2 separate regions of the Homo sapiens genome follow, and region 1 is linked to region 2. A link means that fine-mapping ties the variant in region 2 to the expression of a gene that starts in the linked region. Tissue or cell type: whole blood. Region 2 holds a variant in brackets; the other region holds the start of a gene. All regions are shown on one strand. Distances are between the middles of the regions.

Region 1 (2,500 bases), 86 kb after region 2:
GCCTATCTCTAGTAGCCACTATTCTAATACAAAAAAAAAAAAAGAAAATTTAAACTTTACATGTATAATGCCTTGTTGCTTCAACTGCTATTTCTATTTGAGGGCCCACTATATGCCAGGCACTGTTCTAAGCCCTGGGATTACAAAGGTGAACAAGACAGATGATGTTCTTCCTCTCAGGGAGTTTATAATATTTTGATTCTGCTTAATTCAAAAGAAAACAAACCCCCTTTACATATCAGGAATCAAAAGATTCCATTACACAGGGTTAAGCTCCATTTTTACAAAGAAACCCAGACTTTGCAGAAGGTGAGTCACATGCCCGGACCAGGTAAGTGGCACATTTAGGAAAGGAGCCAGGCCTAGGAATATCTGGCCCAGCGATCTCTCCAACAGGAGCAGGGCCAAAGAAAAACAAATGAGCATTTTTAAGCATGAAAGACCCTAAATGGAGGTAAAAACCCCAGTACAAAAGTTACTCCCCCAAACACCTACTAAAAAAAAAAAAAAAAAAAAAAAGATTTAGACTGTTTTTTTTACCTTGCAAATAAATGAACTCATGCGAAGGTCCAGGCTAGGTCCCTTTCAAAGCCTGCAGCAGGGAAGGCTCTCCTAAAAGCCTCTAATCCCAGCTTTCTGAGACTTTGGGAAAGGGTGGCAGATGCAGCCCAGGGCATCCCAGGGTGGCTAGCCACATACCTGGCACCTGGCGGGACTCCTTCATGTCCAGGATATCCCTGATGTAGAGTTTTGCAAAGGCTAGAAACACAGGATCCAAACCCCACAAGAGGGAAGGGGTCTCCTCTTCACACCGGCTGGATCCAGGCTGCATCAAGAGGCAGGGCTGTGGCTTCCAGCTAACTCTGAAAGGTTCTGCATCACTGAGTCAAGCATCTAGATGGGACACAGAAATGAGGATGCAATGCGTTTAACGTGGGTCAAAGTGGCACGGCCCTGACGCTGCTCCCAGGTGGGCGTCCAGGACTCCAGGAGGGGTGAACGCAGGGATCCAGGGCCCTGTCAAACTCCATGCCACGGGGCGTGTTAAGAGGCGTTCCTCACGTCAGGACGCCTGCGTTCCTTACGGCTCTCCCGCTGTTCTCCTTCCCACAAAGCACCAACTTCGGAACGGCTAAACATCAACTTTCACTCTGGGAAGATACGTCTGTACAGGCGTAGCAGAAACCGCTTGGGGTCCCGGGAGGAACGGGCGCCCTCGCAGCCCTGCACGTGTTGGGGCATAGTGGATGGGTCTGACTGTCGCTCTGCCCTAAACTTTCCGCTTTTGGGGATGAGCCAAGAAAAGGAGGAAAAAAGATACTAAAAAATGGACCCACTTGTAGCCCCTCCCGCCGCCTGCAGCTCCAGGAGCCCTGAGACCTGGCCCTTCCGGCGCTCGGAGCCGCTGGCGGCGACGACCCCGCCCGGCGCAGGAGCAGTTGGCTGAGGTCGTCTCTGGAGTTCCGGCCTGAGCCCGCCCCCTGCCCCGCCAGGGACCAACCCCGGTCTCCCCGCCAGCGCATTTCCTTTCTGCTGCAGCGCCTCGCCACGGCTCCGCCCCATCTCTCCCGAAGTCCCGCCTCATCCCACCCAGACCCCACCCATCCCGCCGCGGCCACGCCCCATCCTGCCCGAAGCCCCGCCCCATCCCGCCCGAAGCCCCGCCCCATCCCGCCGCGGCCCAACCATCCGCTAGGCCCCATCCAGCCGAAGTCCAGCCCGTTCCGTGCCCCGCCTCAGCGCAGCGTACTTTTGGTTCAGGCAGCGCTGCAGCCCCGCCTTCGTGCTAGCCTCCACCGCTGAGGCCTAGGAGGCGACCTTGAAATTCCTGCAGTTCTAACGCCGCTCTTCTAGTCACCTTTCACCCCTCCTCCTGCTGGTGGCGGGACCCTGAACCTGGGCCTCCTAGAGGTTGGGTCAGGATCAGACTATTTTTCTTTTTGATTCCTGATATGTAAAACAGATAAAAAGTAAGCAGTGCCACGAGTGCATTGTGGCATATTTTAAATGTTCATTTACAGTTGGTAAGTGACCTGACTCACACACTTAGGACTCTAGTTTCACTTGGAGATGTCAATATCTAAATTTGAGCCCTCGAGTGAATGTGAGGTCTTGACTCTGCCAGAGACTAGCCGTGCAAAATCATGACAATACATTTTGTCTCCTTTACCCTTGTTCGGTCTACAGTCTGGAAGGTTGTACACTTAAGAACTTTGAAAAGCTGGCATTTTGGTAAATCATGGCCACCTTGATGGTGCTTAGTCTCCAGAATTTCTATTTTAAAGTGAGGAAAGATAGCCACGTTCCACTCCCATAAAGAGCTACGTTACCCGAGACGTCAGGAATTCTTCCTAATTTACAGAGACTCTGGAAAATGGCAGGGGAGTACAGATCACCCTGGCAGACCATTCCCGGGGGAGGCAGGTGGTGGCCAAAGAGATAATTGCTAAACTATTTATCAGAGAAGGAACTTGGAGCCGCTGGAATGGAAAGTGTGTGT
Region 2 (2,850 bases):
AACAAATTAGAGAGGATGGCTAAGAGGAAAAGGGATAGGATTGAGGATTAGGGCTAAAAGAAAAAATAAAAATAAGTCAGGATGAGGGTTTGCAATGGTGAGAATACGCAATAAATTGAAAAATAGGATGAATTTCCCCAGTTGGTCAGAAGAACCAACACATGATCTACATTTTTAGGTGGGAACAGTCATAATACAAGACAGGTGCGAAGCATCCTTCCAGTCTGTGTTTGCATGCTTTTACTACAAACATATGTAACCATACATTACACACTATTGTTTTGTGAATAATTTTTAATTTACATAAATGGATCGATATTTCCATAAATAATATTTACATAAATGGTATCAGAGATAATATTCTACTTCTTGTTTTTTCATTCAATACTGTTTTGGAGATCTTTTCATGTTGACACTTACAGATCTTATTCATATTAACTGTACAGAATTCCATCAGTGAATATCCTATACCTTATTTATCCAACCATTGGCATTTGTACTGTTCCAAGTGGTAGCCATTAGGGCTGTTCACTGAATATACCAATTCTTTTCCTTCCCAGGCACATGGTAGAATTGTGCTTCCTCAACAACCTGAAGGTATGTGTGGCCAGGTGACCTCTTTGGCCAAGGGATGTGTTATTTTTGGACAGAAGCATTTTTTTTAAATTGAGGCATAACTCATATACTATTAAGGTCACCATTTTAACGTGTACAATTTGGCTGGGCAGGGTGGCTCAATAATCCCAGCATTTTGGAAGGCCAGTGTGGGAGGATTGCTTGAGCCCAGGAATTCAAGACCAGCCTGGGCAACATCATAAGACTCAGTCTCTACAAAAATAAATTTAATTAATTAACTAATTAAAGTGTGCAATTCAGTGTTTTTTTAGTATATTCACAGAATTATGCAACTAATACATCACCACTATCTAATTCCAGAACATTTTCAACACCCCAAAAAGAAACCTCATGGCAGTTAGTAGTTATTCTCCATTCCTCAATACTTCCAGCTCCCGGAAACAACTAACCAACTTTCTGTTTCTATGCATTTAACTGTTCTGGGCATTTCATATGAATATAATCATACAACCTGTGGCCTTTTGTGTCTGACTTCTTTCACTTAGCATAATGTTTTCAAAGTTCATCCAGGTTGCAGGATGAATCAGCACTTCATTCCATTTTTATGGCAGAATTATATTTCATGGACAGAAGCATTTAATTGCCACTGCCGGACACTGCTACACTCTCTCCCCATGCCCCAGGGACCATGGAAGCACTCTAGGCCTTTGCAAGTCTCAGTTTTCAAGTGCCTACAACGAGCAGCAGCCCCTAATGACTCCAATGGACAGGCAGTATGAGCAAGAAATAGAATTTGGGGGCTGTTTGTTCCTGTAACTTAACCTATCCCATTCTGACTGATAAACCAATTTGTCTGTCTTACAAATACATAGCAATAAAAATCATTGCACGTGTCTTCTCATGTGCACTTGGGAGATAGTCTCTACACCCTAGAATCTAAGGTATACACTTAGAAGTAGAACCTAAAAA[G/GA]AAAAAAAAAAAAAAGAAAAGAAAACAAGGTTCAACCAGCTGATCTGGAGGAAATAATAAATTTCTATCTACTCTCTAAATAATATCTAAAATACTACACACTATTCACAATAGCAAAGACTTGGAACCAACCCAAATGTCCATCAATGATAGACTGGATTAAGAAGATGTGGCACGTATACACCATGGAATACTATGCAGCCATAAAAAAGGATGAGTTCATGTCCTTTGTAGGGACATGGATGAAGCTAGAAACCATCATTCTCAGCAAACTATCGCAAGGACAAAAAACCAAACATCGCATGTTCTTACTCATAGGTGGGAATTGAACAATGAGAACACTTGGACACAGGAAGGGGAACATCACACACACACTGGGGCAGGGTGGGGGAGGGAAAGCATTAGGAGATATACCTAATGTAAATGACGAGTTAATGGGTGCAGCACACCAACATGGTACATGTATACATGTGTAACAAACCTGCACATTGTGCACATGTACCCTAGAACTTCAAGTATAATAAAAAGAAAAAAAAATAGAAGTAGAACCACCAGGTCACATGATAAGCACACCTTCAAATTACTAGATATTGCCACATTGTTTTCCAAAGTGGTTACACCACTTAAAATTCTACGTAAGTGTTCCCACTTCCCCATATTCTCACCAACACTTAGCATTATTAGGCTTTTCATCCTGTACTTTCTAACAGAGAATCACAAACTCTCTTGAACAAAATTGCTAACTATGGCACTCAAGGGTATAGAATATTCTAAATATCTGGTGGTTAACCAGGAAGCCCTTTATGTTACGTCTTTTCCATCTAAGCATTATTTTAGCCTGCTGCCCAGCCATAAGTGGGAAAAAATGCAAAATAATACAATGTCCATGAAGTGATTCCATAGGTATGAGGGATCCACAATGGTCTTCACTGTAAACATCACTTCTCATTTGATGGATTTAGATACAGATGGTATAGGACAACAGATTAAATGTGAACTGACCCATCTGACATAAATCCTAACCTGTCTTATTTATTAATGTCACTTCAATAATTTATCCTACAAAAATAGTAGCTCAAGTTCCCAAAGACATATATATATATATTTATATCTATATATTTATATTTATATATGGATGTTTAGAGCAGCATTGTTTGAAGTGGCGAAAAAGTTAGAGACAGTCTAAATGTTCATTAACAGAGGAATCTTTTTTTAAAAGTTATAATTCCTTATTATCTACCCGAACTTTCTTGAAAGTGAGATGATAAATTTCCACATGGCTTGAGATTGTTTCAGCTGGGATTT

The links. PIP is the estimated chance that this variant, and not a neighbour inherited with it, causes the effect.
Region 1: STN1 starts here. The variant in region 2 is fine-mapped to the expression of STN1 in whole blood (INTERVAL, PIP above 0.99).

What each region holds. Positions count from the first base shown.
Region 1 is chr10:103,916,763-103,919,262 of GRCh38, forward strand. It overlaps STN1 (STN1 subunit of CST complex), which reads right to left and starts at 1,422. Exons shown (of 10, transcript NM_024928.5): 1 at 1,338-1,422; 2 at 700-894. The coding sequence starts at 832. RefSeq lists enhancers at 884-1,213, 1,073-1,718, 1,349-1,643 and a silencer at 1,384-1,733.
Region 2 is chr10:103,830,825-103,833,674 of GRCh38, forward strand. The region is part of intron 1 of SH3PXD2A (SH3 and PX domains 2A); the gene reads right to left. Among named protein-coding and RNA genes, the nearest start is that of SH3PXD2A, 23 kb to the right of the region's middle. The variant G/GA (reference allele first, on the strand shown) is at 1,546.